Linked DNA regions of Homo sapiens. The protein of the gene in region 2 interacts with the protein of the main gene of each other region in a biochemical or structural test. Each region holds a gene or a part of one and is shown on either strand. Other genes may lie near its edges. The genes, in order: RPS6KB1, DEPTOR and TNFAIP3.

Region 1 (7,089 bases), on a different chromosome or scaffold from region 2:
ATAAAGCACCTTCCTATCCAGTTTTCTCCCCTGCCCTGCTCCAAAGCCACTGTCATAGAGAACCAACATAACTGATAAAGAGTATGGTATATGGTATAAATAATGAAAGTAATCTCATATTTGTTTCCAATTGTAACTAGTGTACCATTATGTTCGATTAAGAGGCTAATTGGAATTCTGCATGAAAACATCATTGAAAAAGCACACACCAACCGGATGCAGTGGCTCACGCCTGTAATCCCAGCACTTTGAGAGGCCAAGGCTGGCAGATTGCTGGAGCTCAGGAGTTCAGGCCCACCCTGGGCAACATGGTGAAACCCCATCTCTACTAAAATACAAACAATTAGCCAGGCATGGTGGTGCGCGCCTGTAGTCCCAGCTACTCGGAAGGCTGAGGCACGAGAATCGCTTGAGCTCAGGAGGCGGAGGCTGCAGTGAGCCGAGATCAGGCCACTGCATTCCAGCTTGGGCTACACAGTGAGACTCCATCTCAAAAAAAATTAAAATAAAATAAAGTAAAAAGCCTGGTGGGGTGGCTCACACCTGTAATCCCAGCACTTTGGGAGACTGAGGCAGGTGATCACCTGAGGTCAGATGTTCAAGACCAGCCTGGGCCACATGGTGAAACCCCATCTCTACTAAAATACAAAAAAAGTAGCCAGGTGATGTGGCGCGCCCCTGTAATCCCAGCTACTTGGGAGGCTGAGGTAGGAGAATCGCTTGAACCTGGGAGGCAGAGGCTGCAGTGAGCCGAGATCGCACCACTGCACTCCAGCCTGGGTGACAGAGGAAGACCCTGTCTCAAAAAAAAAAAAAAAAAAAAAGCCAGGCGCAGTGGCTCACACCTGTAATCCTAGCACTTTGGGAGGCCGAGGCGGGCAGATTACGAGGTCAAGAGATCGTGACCATCCTGGCTAACACAGTGAAACTCCATCTCTACTAAAAATACAAAAAATTAGCCAGGTGTGGTGGCACGCGCCTGTAGTCCCAGCTACTCAGGAGGCTGAGGCAGGAGAATCGCTTGAACCCAGGAGGCAGAGGTTGCAGTGAGCTGAGATCACGCCACTGCATTCCAGCCTGGGTGACAGAGCAAGACTGTCTCAAAAACAAAACAAAACAAAAAAACCAGAAAGAAAGAAAAGAAAAGAAAAGAAAAGAAAAAGCACACAACTCAATACCCACTTTCTAAACCGTGTGATTTTGATTTAGTCTTATTTGATTATGAAAAGAACAGTATTGGTCAGGTATGGTGGTTTATGCCTATAATCCCAGCATTTTGGGAGGCCGAGGCTGGTGGATCATTTGAGGTCAGGAGTCCGAGAACAGCCTGGCCAATATGGTGAAACCCTGTCTCTACTAAAAATACAAAAATTAGCCAGATGTGGTGGCGCATGCCTGTAATCCTAGCTACTTGGGAGGCTGAGCCATGACAATCGCTTAAACCCAGGAGGCTGAGATTGCAGTGAGCTGAGATCGCACCATTGCACTCCAGTCTGGGTGATAGAGTGAGACCCAACTCAAAACAAAACAAAAGAAACAAACAAGAAGAACAGTATTATTTTAGGCCACTTAGTTTCTTAAAGTGTTCAAAATTCTTTATATACATCATCTCAATCTTTTGTCAACAGTAGGGCAGGTGCCAGAGGAGAAAAACTGAGGGTGAGGCAAGGGAAAGGAAGCCCCTGTGTAATTAGAGCAAACATCTGACGTCATTAACCCATGTATTCAACTAGACATTGGAATTTAGATGCTAAACTACCAAGAGGTTATCAACTGATGATCATTTGGTCCAGGATCAGTGATTTAGTATGACAACATTTTTGAACTTCAGGTGCAATTTGTCATTTTTTGATAAATTTATCTAGGGAAAAAAAAAGTTATTCCATAAAGATTAACAAACCACTAAGCCAGCAGGGTGAAACCAAGCTATGCATTAGGAAATACAATTCTAAATTTAGCACCCTAAATTACAGCAAGGAAAGCCCTCATACCACCATTCACAAGTCTCTGTTCAGGCAACTTATTTCTGGCAAGCTAAATCAAGGCTGTCAACTGGTTTTTGGTTTTTTTTTCCACCTCAAAATTACATTAATTATTCTGAAAAAAATACAGACATCTTCAACTTGGGGAAAGGTTACAAGTGCCGTGTGTCCTTATAAATGCTTATTTTAAAAAGTCACACGGAAGGGGGTAAAAAAAAAAAAGCAAACAAACAAACCCTGGAAGATTGGAAGATGCAGCAGAGCCCCCTTGCTCCCGAAATAAAACTCCTGGTGGCTGTAACAGCAGCGGCAGTGCTACTCCCGACAGAAGTTTTCAGCTGTCACTTCTAACAGCTGAGCGCTTCCTAGGAGAGAAGCGACAGGCCGAGAAGAGAGGTGGTTGTGGGAGGTCTGAAGATTCAATACTTGAAATTCTAGACTCGAAGGGAAACCCTCCACACTTCGCCTGCACTTACGGGACACCCAGCAAGAGCAGCCCCCGTCTCCCCAACACACGCTCACGCCACCCGCTCCCCGCCACACTCAAGTCCAACAGCTCGAGGAATCGACCACGCGCCCGTTCTCTTTCCCTCTTCAGATCGCTCGGGGCTGCGCTGACCTGGGGCTAAGGGTGCGACCTGCACCTGCGAGCCCCGCAGAGGCCTCACACCTAGGGCCATGACCGCCCCGCCCGCTCCCCTGTCTCAGGCCGCGCGACCCTCAGCTCCTCAGGAGCCCCCCTGGGTCTCCACGCTCTAGGACACACCGCGCTTCCTGAGCCCGCGCCGCCGCCCCGGCCCTGTCACCTCGGGCCCCCGGGGACCCCGGGCCTCACCCCCTCCTCCAGCTCATCCTCAGAGCCCGCGTCCTCTGGCTGGTCCAGGTCTATGTCAAACACTCCTGCCATGTCCTCAGCTTCCCTGTCTCGGAAGTCCGGGGCTGGGTAAAAGCCGTCCCGCCTCCTTCGTCGCCTCATGGGCCCGGACCCGCCGCAGCCACCACAGCCGCTGCCGCCATCACCGGCTGCTTAGGCTCAGTGCGTCTGCGCCTAGGCCTTAGACTGGCTCCTAAAGTTCAGCGTAGGAGCATGCGTACAGGGTTCCGTGAAGCCAAACAGTGGGCAGTGGACATGCGCAGAACTATCGGCAGGATCCAGGCGCTGGCAGAAACATGCGCAAAACACCAGCCGAAGTCGCGCTTGGAGGACTAGAGCATGCGCATTGTCAGCTGGAGCGTTCGGTGGACAGTGAGCATGCGTACCATATCTGAAGTTCGTAAATTGAAATTGAACATGCGTAATTAATCTTTCTGAATAGGAAAAAATATATACACAACAAAACTCTCCGTTTATGGAACATGCGCATTTGTTCTCAGTAAGTTTTTCGTTTTGAAAGTGAGCATGCGCATGGTGAGTAGGTTGGTCCGAAGTTTGAACCGGACAGAAGCGCTGGTCGGCGTCTGGCGGTGAGTCGGGTTACGTGTGGAGAACTCCTGGGGCCCGTGGGGAACGGGGGACCTTTTGGCTTTGCTCTTTACTAGTTCTGTGGCCTTGGAAAAGTCAATAACCTTTCAGAGCCTCAGTTTCCTTATCTGTAAAATGAGGATAATAATAAACCTACTTTGCCGGTTTGACATTTTAAGCACAGAGTCTGTCTCACAACCCACGGCTCATTTCCAGTGCTGCATAGACCTGATGTGAAGTCTTTATCAAAACTTGTCTTTTCCTAGGTAAAAATAATGAGGAACTGCTCTAATGTTTCTTTTGCTTTCTTTCTTTTTCAAATGGAGACAGGGTCTCGCTGTGTTGCCCAGGCTGGTCTGGAATCCCTGGGCTCAGGTGATCCTCCCGCCTCGGCCTCCCAAAGTACTGGGATTACAGGCATGAGCCATTGCGCCCGGTTAATATTTCATCTGGTTTTCTTTCTCCAAGCTGCATCTTTCTTGCTGTCCTACCTGAGCTAAACACAAAATCTTTCTTACAGGTCTTACTAAAGTTACCAGGCTAGACTAGTGGAGAAAGCGTAAGCTATTATTTAGAAGAGAGAAAATTAATGTTAATTGAATGTACAATGTTGAGCACACTTCTGTGTTCTACATGTTCATGTGGTGTGAAGGGTGGTACTACTAATTTCTTCAATCAGCATTTGTTTTGTCTTGTTTTTATTTTTTTAATTTTAATTTTTTTTTTTTCTGGAGACAGGAGGATGTCACTTTGTCACCCAGGCTGGAGTGCGGTGGCAAGATCTTGGCTCACTGCAGCCTGGACCTCCCAGGCTCAGGGGATCCTCCCACCTCAGCCTCCCGAGTAGCTGGGACTGCAGGCGCACACCACCACGCCAAGCTAATGGTTGTATTTTTTGTACAAACAGGGTTTTGCCATGTTGACCAGGTCTGGAACAGCCAGGCTCACGTGATTCTCCCAACTCAGCCTCCCAAAATGCTGGGATTACAGGTGTGAGCCACGCACCCAGCCTCTTTTTTTCTTTTATCACTCCTCAACTGAGGAGAATGTTTTGTTTTAAACATATGTTTAGGAAAAAAGTGATTACAAATCAGATTTTGGAAACTATTGAGCTGTGTATGAATGGATTCAGGTACAGTAAATCACAAATCCCAAAACCATGTAGAGAGTATGAGAACTTCCTTGAATGACTAGCTCCTTAGACAACACAGCTGTTCTATCTCCAATATTATATACGTATGTGGCATTTTAAAATGACTTTTTGGGCCGGGCGTGGTGGCTCAAGCCTGTAATCCCAGCACTTTGGGAGGCTGAGGTAGGTGGAGGTGGATCACGAGGTCAAGAGTTCAAGACCAACCTGGCCAACATGGTGAAACCCCATCTCTACTAAGAATACAAAAATTAGCCAGGCGTGGTGGCACGTGCCTGTAATCCCAGCTACTCGGGAGGCTGAGGCAGGAGAATCGCTTGAACCTGGGAGGCGGAGGTTGCATTAAGCCGAGAACATGCCACTGCACTCTAGCCTGGGTGACAGAACAAGACTCCGTCTCAGGGGGGAAAAAAGACTTTTTATTGATGTATAATTAACATACATGGCATTTTATTTGTTCTTATTAGTAATGTAGTGGTTCTCAAAGCGTATTTTTTTCGATTACAGGTTGTTTTTAGAGGTAATACACCTAGTTTGTGGCTCAGCATGTCAATTGTAACAGTGCAACTTGGTCAGTGTGGCAATCAGATTGGTTTTGAAGTTTTTGATGCTTTGCTTAGTGACTCACACAGTTCCCAGGGACTCTGCTCTATGAGAGAGAATGAGGCATATCAAGCATCTTGCAAAGAAAGATTCTTCAGTGAGGAGGAGAATGGAGGTAGGTGTGGCCCACAGTCCTCTCCTTTACTCTGATCTAACCAACCCCTTCAAAGCCAGGCCTTCCACATGGTTTTTAAACCCCATTCCTTCCCATCTCACTAGGGAATTACTTTGTTTTTGCTTTTCATTTCTATGTTAATAATCTTTGCTTTTCCAGTGGCATTTTCCCTTCTGCATGCTCAGATCTCACCAATTTAAAACCAACCAAACAAAACTCATCTATTGACTGGCTTTCTTCTTCTTATCTCTTTGCCTTTCATCTAAGATTCTCAAAAGAGGACCCTGCTGGCTGGGCGTGGTGGCTCACGCCTGTAATCCCAGCACTTTGAGAGGCCGAGGCGAGTGGATCACAAGGTCAGGAGTTCAAGACCAGCCTGACCAACATGGTGAAACCCCATCTCTACTAAAAATACAAAAATTAGCTGGGCGTGGTGGCATGTGCCTGTAATCCCAGCTACTCGGGAGGCTGAGGCAGGAGAATCACTTGAACCCAGGAGGCAGAGGTTGCAGTGAGCCGAGACCGCACCACTGCCCTCCAGCCTGGTGACAGAGCGAGACTCCATCTCCAAAAAAAATAAAAGGACCCTGCTTAACCACCTATGATCCTGCTTCTGCCCCACATAGCATCATTGAAGCTGCTCTAAGAAAAGTTTCCAGTGACCTCCGAATCACCAGATCCAACTACTGTTTTTCTTTTCTTTTTTTCTTTTTCTTGTAGAGACAGGTTCTTACTACACTATGTTGCCCAAGCTGGAGTGCGGTGGCTATTCACAGGTCTCCTGAGTAGCTGGGACTGCAGGTGCATGCCACCATGCCTGGCTCTTTCTTTTCTCTGTCTCTCTTTTTTTTTTTTTTTTTTTTGAGAGAGTCTCGCTCTGTCACCCGGGCTGAAGTGCAGTGATGTGATCTTGGCTCACTGTAACCTCCACCTCCCGTGTTCAAGCAATTCTCCTGCCTCAGCCTCCCAAGTAGCTGGAATTACAGGTGCCCACGACCATGTCTGGCTAATTTTTGTATTTTTAGTAGAGACAGGGTTTTGCCATGTTGGCCAGGCTGGTCTCGAATGCCTGATCTCAAGTGATCCGCCTGCCTTGGCCTCCCAAAGTGATGGGATTACAGGCTCTCTTTCTTTTTCTTTTTCTTTTTTTTTTTTTTTTTTTGAGACAGAGTCTAGCTCTGTCACCCAGACTGGAGTGCAGTGGTGCGATCTTGGCTCACTGCAACCTCCGACTACCAGGTTGAAGCAATTCTCCTGCCTCAGCCTCATGAGTAGCTGGGACTACAGGCATGCGCCACCACGCCCAACTAATTTTTTTGTATTTTTAGTAGAGATGGGGTTTTACCATGTTGGTCAGGCTGGTCTCGAACTCCTGACCTCAAATGATCTGCCCACCTCAGCTTCCCAAAGTGCTGGGATTACAGGCGTGAGCCACTGTGCCCAGCCTCTCTTTCTTTTCTTAATTCACTTTACTCCTCTACTGCGTTTGATAACAGTAACGTATAAAAACTCTTTCCAGCAGGGCGCAGTGGCTCACGCCTATAATCCCAGCACTTTGGGAGGCCAAGGCAGGCAGATCACTTGAGGTCAGGAGTTAGAGACCAGCCTGGCCAACAGGGTAAAACCCCGTCTCGACTAAAAATACAAAAATTAGCCGGACATGGTGGCACATACCTGTAATCCCAGTTATTCGGGAGGGTGAGGCAGGAGAATCACTTGAACCCGGGAGGGGGGTTGCAGTGAGCCGAGATCTCGCCACTGCACTCCAGCCTGGGAA
Region 2 (6,808 bases):
AAACCAACAGATGTGTCACCATATGACTTTTAGGACAATTTTTATTAAGTGTGTAAAGTACTTGGATTGGCACTTGAGAAATACTAGGTTTTTCAATATATGACTGAATTGATTGAGAGGTTGCCTGCTATTTTGAAAAGGATCCTGCCTGTGATACTCTGCCTCCTAAACTAAATTGTAAGCTTCGTGAAGGCAAAGATGCTGGTATTTATTAGGTTGGTGCAAAAGTAACTGCAGTTTTTGCAATTAAAAGTTGCAAAACCACAATTGCTTTTGCACCTACCTAATAAATCTTATTTAAGTTCTCCACACACTAGTTGGTACAAGATGTCATGGGCTTTTTCTCCAGAACACCTGTGACAGAGGGTCTTCACCTGATCCTCTATACCCCTAGAGATGTGCTCAGGTGGCAGCACAAGTAAGAAGGTTTGTGTGAAATGAGCAGTTCACGGTGTGCTTGCTCTGACCCCACTCTTGACTGGCTGCTCTGGACAGCATGTGGGAACGCAAGGGAGTGAGACTGTCTTTATGCCTAGGGTAGCCCTGAATCAGCCTTACTTTATGAAAGAGTGAATTAGTCACAAACTTTGGCATTTGAGAAATGTGTGTGTGCATACACTTAGAAAACAAAAACAAGAAATGACCTTTTTCTGTTTTTCTAATTTTTTTATTTTTTATCTTTTATGTTTTTTAGGCAGGATCTCACTTTGTCACTCAGGCTGGAATGCAGTGGCATGATCTTGGTTCACTGCAGCTTCAACCGCCTGGGTTGAAGCGATACTCTTGCCTCAGTCCCCCAAGTAGCTGGGACTACTGGCGTGTGCCACCACACCTGGCTAATTTTTTATTTTTATTTTTGTAGAAACAGAGTTTCGCCATGTTGCCTAGGCTGGACTTGAACTCCTGAGCTCGAGTGATCCGCCTGCCTTGGCCTCCCAAAGTGCTAGGATTGCAGACGTGAGCCACTGCACGTGCCCGGCCTGTTTTTCTAAAATTAAATTCAGTTGAAGTGACCATCACCAAGGTTGATGACAAGTTCAATGTCAGATCATTTTGGTGTCCCTTGCCTATGTCCTTCCCGTTTGAGATCATGTGCACCATAACCCACCACAGCCCCCATCCCAGGGCTTTTAGGCAGTCCAGTAAAATGAACCCTGACCAGTATTAGTGACTGGTGCCACTGGCCCTTGGCCAGACAGCCCTGCTGACTGCCCTTTTCCTACCCCTGAACACCTGGGTAAAGGTCCTGTGCAGAGTTCACCAGGTGCTCATCCTCCCACACATACAGCCTTGACCATCCTAGCTTCTGAGGCCTCCAAGAGCTCTGCAATCAAGAGGTGCACAGGACCCCATCTTGAACCAAACCAGCCTCTCCCTTCTAGACAGAAGGGAGATCCTTGTAGACCAAGAATCTACCCACTGTTAGCATCAGGGCCCTCTTCCCTTCAATGTTTATTGTTTTGTTTTGTTTCATTACTTAACTAAGAGCTTTATGGAGATATAGTTCACATACCATGCAATTTATCCATGTAAACTGTAGAATTCAGTAGTTTTTAATATATTCACAGATTTATGTCACTATTACAACAATTTTAGAGCATTTTTATCACCCCTAAAAGAAACCCCGTACCCATTACCAACCACTTCCATGCCCCACCCCACCACCCCTGCTCCCAACCCTAAGTAATCAATAATCTACTTGCTGTCTCTGTGGATTTGCCTACTCTGGACATTTCATATAAATGGGCTCTTACACTCTATGGTCTATTCTGACTGGCATCTTTTACTTAGCATAATGTTTTCAGGGCTCACCCATGTTGTAGCATGTTGTATGTTCCATTTTATGGCCGAATAATATTCCACTGTATGGATATACTGAATTATATTTCTCCTTTCATCTGTCTTTTTAAATTTTTTAAATATATAGATATATATATTTTGTAGAGACGGAGTCTCACTATGTTGTCCAGGCTGGCTCAAGCAATCCTTCTGCCTCAGCCTCCCAAAGTGTTAGGATTACAGGCATGTGCCACCACGCCCAACCTCCTTTCATCTGTTGACAAACATTGGGGTCCTTCAGTTCTTGAAGCTTCAAGCCACCCTGTCTTCAACGCTTTTCCCTCTGGTGGCCATAGATCAGGGACCACAAACTCACATGCCTGTCAGCCAGGTGTTAGGAAGATAGGAAGCCGTAAGGACTGTGGCAAATGAGTGTCCATGCCATGTGTAGAACAGGCAGGCTCTACTCAGCCATGGCCACATGGCCATCTACACCTGGTATGATCACAGCTTCTGATTGTCCCAGAGAAGCCAGAGTCTGGGTTTTTATTTATTTATTTATTTTGAGACAGAGTCTTGCTTTGTTGCCCAGGCTAGAGTGCAGTGGCAGAATCTCGGCCCACTGCAACCTCTGCCTCCCAGGTTCAAGCAATTCTCCTGCCCCAGGCTCCTGAGTAGCTGGGATTACAGGTGTGCCACTACACCTGGCTAATTTTTGTATTTTTAGTAGAGATGGGGTTTCACCATGTTGGCCAGGCTGGTCTTGAACTTCTGGCCTCAGGTGATCTGCCCGCTTCGGCCTCCCAAAGTGCTGGGATTACAGATGTGAGCCACTGCACCCAGCCCAGAGTCTGGATTTTTATGCAAAGATTTTCCAAATTTTATTTTATTTTTTACTTTTATTTTTTGAAATGGAGTTTCACTGTTGTTGCCCAGGCTGGAGTGCAATGGTGTGATCTCGGCTCACTACAACCTCCACCTCCCGGGTTCAAGTGATTCTTCTGCCTCAGCTTTCCAAGTAGCTGGGATTACAGGCATCCGCCACCACGCCCAGCTAATTTTTTTGTATTTTTAGTAGAGACGGGGTTTCACCATGTTGACCAGGCTGATCCACCCGCCAGGCTGATCCACCTCAAGTGATCCACCTGCCTCGGCCTCCCAAAGTGCTGGGATTACAGGCATGAGCTACTGTGCCTGGCAGATTTTCTAAATTTTAAATGCTGGTCAATTAAAACAAACATGATGTGTGACAGAGGACACACAATTGTGGTTAAGACTAAATGCTGAGGCCAAGTGTGGTGGCTCACACCTATAATCCCAGCACTTTGGGAGGCCAAGGTGGGAGGATCACCGGAGGTCAAGAGTTCAAGACCAGACTGGCCAACATGGCGAACCCCCTCTCTACCAAAAATACAAAAAATTAGCTGGGCATGGTGGCACACACCTGTAATCCCAGCTACTCGGGAGGCTGAGGTGGGAGGATCGCTTGAGCCTGGGAGATGGAGGAGATCGTGCCACAGCACTCCAGCCTGGGCAACAGAGGGAGACTCCATGTCAAAAAAAAAAAAAAGTAAATGGTGAAATGTGATCCCTGAGCGATGCGGAGACATGGCTAATCTCAGGGAGCCTGCGAAGGGTCAGCTGGAGAGGGCACTCACCTGGCAACTCCTGCCCTCTTATTTGGCAGTGCAAAAAGGCTATTCATCTTTTTGGAAAAAGAAACCCCTGTATCTGTGGAAAAGACAAGGGATTTGAAATTTCCAAGTCTAGGGTCTAAAGCTCTGGGTTGGGAAGGAGGTGAAATTCTTCTCATTCTTTGGCTCATGAGTCTGCTGCAGCAGAAAAAAACAAAGCCCAGGCTGATGCCTGCTAAATTGCAAATTACTGCTAAATTGTCTTGCAAATTACTGTGGCCTAGTTCAGGATAGATTGTGACCTGTTTGTGTGACCTTGATTATGACTGTGACCTCCACCATGGTTGAAAACTGCTGATTTTGTATAAGATGTACCCTGAATCCATGAAGACAAATTTGTGGAACCAAGAAAAGAGAAACAGTAATAGTGTGATCTTATGTGGAGAAAACACCCTAGTAGGTTGGGGAGTGCAAAGTATCAAGGTTTATGACAACAGCGAGTGTTTATTGAGTAAATAAGCAGTCTGTGTACTACTGCCCGCTTTCCATTTTGTTTTGCCTGTGACCGTGAAAGAAGTGGGTATTTTTTGAAAGGAAAGAGATTAATAGTACTCAGCATCGGTGTAGTGCTTGGTGTTTGCAAAGAGGTTTCAAATGCACTATCTAGTGTGAGCCTGTGAGAATAGGCGTTTTTACCTGTTGTACAAGTGAGGCATTTATATCGTTGAAACATAGAAGAGGAGAAATTACTTGATTAATGTATTCCACCAAAGGGACCTATAACTTAAATCTGTATCTTTGATTCTAAGTCCCCTCATCTTTTCCACAGTGACAGAGCTTTCCAATACTCTTCCCAGTACTCTCCAATTTTGTTGTATCTAAGTAATAAGTATAGATATTTTTGGACTTAATATCATGTTTAAGTTTACATCGATATTACCCACACAGAAAACAATAAAAGGAAATGATGGTTCCCAAGGTGTTTTGGTATTTTTTACATTCTTTGGTTGAGTCCTCAACACTAATAATTAATAATTGGGAGCAAGCATGCCTGTGAATTACTGCAAGTAGAAACTATATATGTCATTAATTCTTACAACAGTCTTATAAGGTAGGTATTACTCTTATTATTATTATTAATTCTTATTTTAGGGTTGAGGGAAATAAAGCTCAGAAATTTAAATACCTAGCTAGTATTTAAATACTAGCTAAAGCTAGTATGTCTCTGAGTTAGGATTTAAGCCAAATTTTGTAAAACACTAAAACGATTTTTTTTTTTTTAAATTATACTGCCTTCCAGAAAATGTGTAGCTCCTTGGAAATTATTGAATTGGAGTCGTCAGCTGGATACATTTGGATATTTTAAGAATGAAGTTACCTGTTAGGGCTACACACTGTCTTTATTAAAGCTTTGTGCAAAACCAGGCGCTATAATAGATGCTCTTTCTTTGCATCTTTCCTTTAGGTCTGTCAGTTTGTCGTCTCTGTCAACGGGCTCAATGTCCTGCATGTAGACTACCGGACCGTGAGCAATCTGATTCTGACGGGCCCACGGACGATTGTCATGGAAGTCATGGAGGAGTTAGAGTGCTGAGCTCCTGGGCCTCCCAGCCCTCCAGTGGCCTGTGGGTGAGGGAAGCCAGAATGACACAAAGCAATGCAAAGACAAGATTGCCATGCAAATGGATGGTTTTGGACATACGAGTCTTCTCCGCACATACATGTCTAAAGTTGAGTTTTATACACTGAATGTGGAAGAACCGGGTATCATATCTTTTTTAAAAAATGTCAGTGTAGAAAACATTTGGGAAACCATTTTCCTACATGATAGAACTGCCTTACTAGATTTCTATTTGTAGCTCTCATTCATTGTTTTTTATCTTAGTTTGCAGAAAGGTGTTGAAATGCTTCTCTAGCCCAAACAGCGACATGCTAAAGTCCCCTTCTTCAGAGTCAATAGAGTAGTTGTTAAAGGTTTTAAATTGTACTTTCTCCAAAATTAGCATGCAGCTATTTAATAGGGAATCTAGATTTCACCAAGATTCAAATCAAAGCAACATTTAAAGGAATAAGACCTGTTCACTAGCATTTTCAAGGGGGTTCTAAAGCATTCAAGTGCTTAAAAGCCATAAAAAATGACTTCTTAATTCCTGCCTTTAGTGTCAACTTTTAAGTTAATACAGGTTTCAATTGTGGCATTAGGAAAAAAAAAAACCTTGTGATGCTATGGTTGGGGGTAGTTAGGGAGAGACTACATGAAATTGTGTGCCCCTATTTTCTTTCTGATCCTAAATCATTTTGTTTTATAAATCAGCTATAGCATCTTTCTAGAATTAATCCTGAATATGTTGAATGTTAAAATAGAGAAGTTTGTATATACACATAATTAAAAATCAACCCTTCTGGCAAGATTTCACTTTGAAGGTGTCTGTTTTTAAGGGAAGGCTAAAACTTTGCTGATATGTGATAAAACTTGAACTCTAAATTGCCTCCTTAGCCTGAATTTTTACTAGCTTTCTAGTGTAACATATTCTAAGGACATGACATGCTGCTTATTTGGGGGGATTATTTTTCACCAAAATGATCATCTTGTGTTGTAACTTTTCAGCTCACTTGTATATACGCACGTTTTCATTTTTGGTCTAGAAAATAGTGCATTTTGGGGCTCAGCGTGCAGAGGAAATTCCTCAAAGTGCCAAATTAGGCAGTCAGGAAATACTAAATTCTTCATTCCAAATAATGGATCTGAATGATGACGTTAATTTTTTATCATGCATTAACAAAATAAAATATGAGAATTGTACCACAGCCATTTCTTTTCATTAGGTTATCGTAATGTATAGGTACTGGTGGAATGGACCTACCGTGCTAAATATGTTATAGACATATATATATATATATATATATATATATATATTTCTGGTAATCCAACTTTTCTGATTTGTAGCTTTAGTCAGAGAATAGGATTTTGGAGTGACAGAGAATGTCTAACAGTAATACTGTTGATATACATTTGAGAAATACTATCACCTCTGTGTGGGTGTGCATTTGTACTGTATGGCAGGCTCTGTGCATTTAATATATATGATATCCTTTAACCCTCAATGCAACCTTGCAAGGTAGATATTAACGTCCACATTTTTCAGATGTGGAAACTAAGCCTGAGCAAGTTTTAAAATGGTCTCTAAATTCACACGGCTGCAGGAACTACTAGGTGAAATAGGCTGAATGTAAACACAGGTTTAACGCTAAATCCCATGTTACTCCCCTCAACTTTTCCCCATTTAAGGACCTTATATTGAGGGTTTATTCTGAGCCAGGCTGTATGCTAAGACTTTACGCCATTTGTCCTTATTTACCTGTGAAGTCAATACGGTCATTATCTCCATTTTACA
Region 3 (7,111 bases), on a different chromosome or scaffold from region 2:
AAGCCAGGCAGACTTGCCTCTGTGTTGGTACCTGGAGGGTGATGATAAAATTTCATTGGCAGTTGAGTTAAAATGATTGAGCTCCAATATCTGTTCTTAGAAGTATAGAATTTATTGTTCTATTATTATTTTGCGGTTTTTCATTTTTTGTTTTCGTAGAGACCTAGGTCTCACCGTGTTGCCCAGGCTAGTCTCAAACTCCTGAGCTTAAGTGATCCTCCTCCCTCGACCTCCCAAAGTGCCAGGATTAAAGGCATGAGCCACCATGCCTAGCCTATTGTTAGTCTGTTTCTTATTCTGATATGAAGTCCGGTGCGGAGGTTCTGAAGGAATGCTGACTGCTCTTAAAATTGCAAAGCATCTTGCTGGAAATGGACTTTTTTATTGATTAGAAAACATTCGGTTTTAACTCTTTATAAACATCAGAATAAACTTCATGATTAAACACTTTATAAATACTTCTCTTTGGGGCTAAAGAGGAAACACCAACCAGCAGCCTAAGTGACAGCATAAAATTGCAAGATTTTTCATAAAGTATTTTACTGTCCTTCCAGCATAGGGAGGGAGTGATAACTCAAGAGTTTGCCCAAGAGCAGGAGTGCTTGGTGGTGGTCTGAGGGGAGGAGCTACAGACTTGTCAGGGCTACTTTGAGCCCTTAACTGGCATCCAGTACTCCCCAAATCCAGTGCTGTTCAGGGTGGCCTCAGAATGAAACGGGAGCTTAAGTTGGTTTTGAGGAGCAGTACCTGTTGCTGACAGACAGGGTTGGCTCCCTGACAAACATTACTGAAAACACGGGTTATTCCCCTCCTCCTCAGTACCCACTCTCTGCCTTCCTTCTCTTGTTTAGGCTAATCTTTTAAAGTGATGTAACTTAAAACAGTCCAGTGTGAGTTAATCTCTGGGGCCAGCTAGTATCCCGGGAGTAGAGGTGCTAAGATCTTTTGCCTACAGATCAGGGTAATGACAAGATCAAACACTGGGGTTTCCTGCAGGCAGCTATAGAGGAGTCGTATTAAAGTCAGGCTAATAGAATGGCTTTTTTTTTTTCCTTTCCTTTTCAGGTGTTGGAGAGCACAATGGCTGAACAAGTCCTTCCTCAGGCTTTGTATTTGAGCAATATGCGGAAAGCTGTGAAGATACGGGAGAGAACTCCAGAAGACATTTTTAAACCTACTAATGGGATCATTCATCATTTTAAAACCATGCACCGATACACACTGGAAATGTTCAGAACTTGCCAGTTTTGTCCTCAGTTTCGGGAGATCATCCACAAAGCCCTCATCGACAGAAACATCCAGGCCACCCTGGAAAGCCAGAAGAAACTCAACTGGTGTCGAGAAGTCCGGAAGCTTGTGGCGCTGAAAACGAACGGTAAGACTTGTTCTGTTGTGTTTCTTTTGCCTGGGTGATAGCTCCCGCCTGCTGGATCCCCATTCATGAAGCTTTAATAGGACAAGCCCAAACTCAAATCAATCTTGAGATTTAGTATTGAGACCTTTATATAGAATCTCTATTCGGGGTATGTGATAATAGCAGACTTGTTTTGTGAATCTATTTATTAAGGATATTTTCTGATTGTGTATATTGCAGAGCACATTGAGGCTTGGAGAATGCATTTGTAAACACCATACCTCCATTAGGTGATTTCTTTCTAATTCTTGCAAATGTCTAATCATCTGTAAAATACCCTTCTCTGGCCCGTAATGGAAATGTTAAAAGCCTTTAAGTTCAAAAGGAAAGAATGGTGTGAAAACTGGTAGTACATTTGTTTCCCACTGTCATTAGAAAATGCTTGTGATGTTCTTACACTTCTTGAATTGGTAGCATTTTATGGGTTAACCAGTGAATGGCTGTTGAAGACATGAAGAACTTCTTTTGTCTCCTCCTCCTCTCTGACCTAGGTTCTATTGCCTATGCCCTGCAAGGTGAAATAGACAGATAGCTGAGATTTTTAGCATGAATTTTAGACTTCACCTTCATTATTTTTAGGGGTTCTTAGTCACTGAATTCCTTCCTGTCTGTGCTGTTCTGCCAATGGCCTTTACCACTAGTAGCTATTTCCTATTCCAAGCTTTACTGTTTTGTTTTTTAATCATTTCCCTTGGGTAAGAATATGTGCATCAACAGGAATGTCAGAGCATACTGTTTCATGCAGGCACAAAATTCTGCTCTATGGATGTGCATAATTATGACAATAAGGAAGTTGACTGTACAAGCTCAATTAAATGCTCATAGTCTACATAAGAGCAGGAATCTCAGGTCCTTATATCTGTGACAGTCCCAAACCATCCTAATAGAAATAATATGTCCAAGGGCAGAAAATCCTTGTTGACAAGGATTACGATAAGAACACTAACTTAATTAACTTCATTCAAAAGCCAAGTACATTAACTTTGGCTTTTTTTGACTTGGGTAACTTAGAGTGATTGGTGGACATGGGTTTTTAAATTTTGATTCTGGGGGCTCTTGTACATTACCCCAACGTCTTGCCTAGATTTATGAAACACTGATTCTTAGAAACATAGATAGAAAGAAAACTGGGGATAGCTACTATCTGCATTGTTCTTGGCATTAAATTAAGTGATACTTAGAGGTAGGTAATTATGTGAAGTCATCATCACGGGGTTTATGTGCCTGACAATTTGTGGTTTTAATCATCTCCCATTTGTTACCAAAAAGAGATGGAGTCAACTTTGGGGGAGTTGGAAACAAAGATTCTGCTGAATTAAAAATGTGGTAGAAAGAGGAACACCTTATTAAGAGAATTAACTGACTTTTAGCTTTATTTCCTTAAGAAAGGAAATGCTCTATTTCCACTAGAAAAAAAAAAGGAATATAAATAGGAAACACTTATTTTGTAAACATGTCATTTAAATCAACAAGGAGCCACACTACAAATAAAACTACAAAAGCAGGTGCATTTTGGTAACATTTTCTGGGAAATCATTTTTAGACTCAGAGTCCTTTTGTTTCTTCACTTTCAAGAAAACTCCTTAAGATTCTAAAAAAGGAAGAAAAGATATTTAGGGAGGGAGGAAAACAAATGACTTTTTCTTTGATTTTAATTAGCACCTTTTAAAAAAAAATTAATCCTTCCCCTGATAGGAGGGTTCTTCAAAGGCAATATCTGTTTGGGGAGGGGGTGATTCACAAGTTTGCATTTGAGGATATGAGACTGCGGTGAATGAGGAAGGGAGTAGGTGGCATAAAATTGAAACTTCATGTGAAAAATTCCAGCGTCTATTGGCTGCAGCGATTTCACTTGTATAATGAGTAGCCCTATTCCAGCTCACCCTGACCACACCCACTTGGAAAGTCCAGGGTGCACTTCGCAGTTTAAATGTCTACACACCAGAACAAAAAGTACAATAGCTGTTGCTCAATTGCTAGTCAAATAACTTAGCACTGGGGAATTCCAGATGTTACTTAGGGAATTTTATACTGGTGCATCTCAATAAAGAACTGAAAGTAAGCACAAGAAGAAAAAAAGCCTTATCTTTGCTCTAGATTTTGCAAAGGGGAAATTTCAACAGAACGCAATCATTGCTACACGTCTGCCAAGACACAAGGCTTGGGCGATCTTTTTTGTTCATTTGTTTGAATACTTAGCTAGTTTTTCTAAATGTATACATTGAAGGAATACTGGCTGTGGAAGTATATTTGAGGGTTTTTTGGTTTCTTTACAGTTTGACTGTAATTACAATTTGATAAAATTTCAAATAGCTCTATTGCCCTACTTATAGAGTAATGTAAGAAACAATGTAACTTTTCATTATAAAAATTATTTTGCACTTGCCAAAGGAGATTAAGGAGTTAACTTTTTTTGTTTTAAACATTCCCCCAAAATATTTATCGTTTGGGGGTTGAAAAAAATGCAGCCCATTGAATTGTGAGTTTTAAACTGGAAAGGTCACAGATTAATGGCATACAATTAAACCTGTTTTTTTGTTTGTTTTTCTTCTCAAAATGTTAGCCCTAAACACTGAATTATTTTCAAATTTAGACACCCAGGTGCTTTTTAACTTTTGTACTTTACAGTTACTAACAAGCAGGTTTGCATAAGGCATTTTTGAGAGCCGGACTAGCAGGCCATAGGTAATTCCGTGTTGTCAATACGACTTTCCACACCAGGAGAGGAAACTCCCAGGGCCCAAAGGCTAAAGTGGAATGGTCAAGTCATTTGCCATTGAGTCATAGCCAGACCATCCCTATCTAGCAAGCCATGCCTGCTTCCTGGTTTGTGCATGTTGCCCTGTGTGCTCCTCCTTAGAACTAGAGAGCAGCAATGCCAGTGCCTTCACCAGCAAATCAAGGGATGGTAGGAAGGGATAGGGCTTTAGAGATCATCACTTACTGCCCTCATTTCACAAGAGGAAAAATGCCCAGTGAACTTAAGGAATTTCCTCCAGGTCACCTAAACTAGTTAGGAGCAGACTTAAGCTAGAACCAAGGTCCCCTGGCTCCTTTGCAGTTGGTGTCATTCATTAAAAAGAAGAATAAAAAGAACTCTTTTTTTCTTAAAGCTGTCATCATCTTGTGAAATATCAGTTTGCCCTTGACTAGGAAATTACATCAAATTAAACCATTCAGTCCCCTAGAATAGCAGTAGGGCTGGTTTATTCTGAAAACCTTTGCTGGGTCTTACATGCAGATAACTTGACTTTCCTTCTCTTCTCCTCCTTTCTGTCCTCAGGTGACGGCAATTGCCTCATGCATGCCACTTCTCAGTACATGTGGGGCGTTCAGGACACAGACTTGGTACTGAGGAAGGCGCTGTTCAGCACGCTCAAGGAAACAGACACACGCAACTTTAAATTCCGCTGGCAACTGGAGTCTCTCAAATCTCAGGAATTTGTTGAAACGGGGCTTTGCTATGATACTCGGGTAGGTTTTTCCCCCTAATTATCTACTAACAGAGCTCCATGGTGGGCATAGGGTACCCCTGGGCGAGTCCCTGCCCTCTGGTAGCATCTGATGGACTAGGTCACATGAATTTGGCTAAGCGAAGCATACTCAATGGAAAACACCAGAAACCTCCAGTGGGACTCACCCAAGGCTTTTGCCCTGCTTTTGGTTAGCAGATTCCCAGCTGTGGATCCGTTCCTGTAGCAGCGAGTCTTTTGATCATGGCCTTTTCCACTGGTGTTTTGTTGTTTTTCAGTTTGATTGCCCTTAGCTTTGCTGAGCCAGCCAGTAAGATTAAGACACGTGCCTCACCATCCTCAGTCACAAGTTTGGAATTTTTGTGAACATTTGGATAAGGGGCTGCAATATGATACCTCATCAGGGATTTTTTTTTAAAGCAGGTGCTGTCCCCGTCCTCCCCAACTTTTGAGTTTGCCTTGTAGTGGAAAAAAGTAAAGGAAGAAAACCGAAATGGGGAAAAAAGGGTGATCATTTGAATGATGGTTTCATGAAAGGGGAAAAAATAAGCTGAGTTATATAAATGAATAATTGTAGAGTGATGTCAGAATGACTTTTTAGTACAGGGAGTACAGGATACATTCAAGCTTTTTTTTCACCCCGCTCCCCTTAGAACTGGAATGATGAATGGGACAATCTTATCAAAATGGCTTCCACAGACACACCCATGGCCCGAAGTGGACTTCAGTACAACTCACTGGAAGAAATACACATATTTGTCCTTTGCAACATCCTCAGAAGGCCAATCATTGTCATTTCAGGTGAGATGCCTGCAGATCACGGATCTGTACTTAAATGCTTTCAGCCTTATGCCTTGGCTCCTGGAGAAAACCACACTGCCAAAGTTCAGGTAACAGAGTTCAATGGAATTTGATGAAAGTCACCTAAGGGCCTCATTTTCCTTTCTCTTTCTTTGAACAGACAAAATGCTAAGAAGTTTGGAATCAGGTTCCAATTTCGCCCCTTTGAAAGTGGGTGGAATTTACTTGCCTCTCCACTGGCCTGCCCAGGAATGCTACAGATACCCCATTGTTCTCGGCTATGACAGCCATCATTTTGTACCCTTGGTGACCCTGAAGGACAGTGGGCCTGGTGAGAAAACTGCATTAATTCACATCTATAACTAGACACTGAAACATCAGGGTTTTCCTTTTTGCTTCTTATTAAAACAGTCTTATTTAAGTATATTATTTTTATTTAAATATATTGTTCTGTGACTTGCTTGGTTAGTAAGAGTAATGCAGTAGCAGTAATCATAATACCCTCATATCTTTTTGAATATGACTTGGAAAGTACTTTCATACATGATAAATTAAGGCGCACAGTGCTCTTAATACAGTGCCTGGTATGGAGCAAGTAAACGCCTGTCAGGTTAGTTTTTTTCTTTTTGAGACAGGGTTTCCCTCCATTGTCCAGGCTGGAGTGCAGTGGCACAATCATGGCTCATTGCAGCCTCCACCCCCTGGGCTCAAGCAGTCTCTCGCTTTGGCCTCTCAAATTTACAGGCACGAGCCACCATGCCTGGCCTGTTAGCTGTTATTTTAATAGCCTCATGTGGAATAAGCACTGTGCTTTGGAAATATTATTTTACTGCATTTTTATCCTTTTAGCACTCTTGTGAGATGTAGGCCTTGGTAGCCTTATTTTACATATTAGACAGTTAAAGCTCAGAGAGGTCAACTAACCTGCCTAATGCCACACAGCTTGATAGTGACAAAGCCAGGATTCAAACTCAGGTCAGTCTGATTCTAAAGCCTGGGACTTTAACCAATAAGATCCACCACCTCCAGGCTGGTTAATGTTATGTGAGTTTCCTGGAAACAGTGCATTTTTATATTAGATTGTAGCACATTTTGTTTTCCCATTTGGGTTTAACTGTGGCTAAGAATACTTTTCTATTCTGTAAGTTATATCTTTTATACATTTTCAAAATGAGATCTACTTACCTATGGCCTTGTTTAGTAGAATACTGTTTTACTTATGTATTATTTTTTTCCTTAGAAATCCGAGCTGTTCCACTTGTTAACAGAGACCGGGGAAGATTTGAAGACTTAAAAGTTCACTTTTTGACAGATCCTGAAAATGAGATGAAGGAGAAGCTCTTAAAAGAGTACTTAATGGTGATAGAAATCCCCGTCCAAGGCTGGGACCATGGCACAACTCATCTCATCAATGCCGCAAAGT

Evidence for each region.
Region 1: of the proteins of DEPTOR (region 2) and RPS6KB1, one has a biochemical effect on the other in vitro, tested with the Homo sapiens proteins (one study listed by BioGRID).
Region 3: the proteins of DEPTOR (region 2) and TNFAIP3 form a complex in vitro, tested with the Homo sapiens proteins (one study listed by BioGRID).

What each region holds. Positions count from the first base shown.
Region 1 is NC_000017.11:59,889,054-59,896,142, reverse strand, and holds the start of RPS6KB1 (ribosomal protein S6 kinase beta-1), read right to left. Parts: upstream 3,023-7,089; 5' UTR 2,959-3,022; coding exon 2,818-2,958; exon of another isoform or gene 2,813-2,817; intron 2,348-2,812; exon of another isoform or gene 2,219-2,347; intron 1-2,218. Other genes in the region: TUBD1 (tubulin delta chain), read left to right, coding at 5,141-5,312. UniProt on the Homo sapiens protein: Serine/threonine-protein kinase that acts downstream of mTOR signaling in response to growth factors and nutrients to promote cell proliferation, cell growth and cell cycle progression.
Region 2 is NC_000008.11:120,044,698-120,051,505, forward strand, and holds the end of DEPTOR (DEP domain-containing mTOR-interacting protein), read left to right. Parts: intron 1-4,878; coding exon 4,879-5,007; 3' UTR 5,008-6,221; downstream 6,222-6,808. UniProt on the Homo sapiens protein: Negative regulator of the mTORC1 and mTORC2 complexes: inhibits the protein kinase activity of MTOR, thereby inactivating both complexes. DEPTOR inhibits mTORC1 and mTORC2 to induce autophagy.
Region 3 is NC_000006.12:137,870,148-137,877,258, forward strand, and holds part of TNFAIP3 (tumor necrosis factor alpha-induced protein 3), read left to right. Parts: intron 1-685; exon of another isoform or gene 686-765; intron 766-887; exon of another isoform or gene 888-1,035; coding exon of another isoform or gene 1,036-1,080; coding exon 1,081-1,375; intron 1,376-4,697; coding exon 4,698-4,888; intron 4,889-5,540; coding exon 5,541-5,688; intron 5,689-5,848; coding exon 5,849-6,019; intron 6,020-6,928; coding exon 6,929-7,109; intron 7,110-7,111. UniProt on the Homo sapiens protein: Ubiquitin-editing enzyme that contains both ubiquitin ligase and deubiquitinase activities.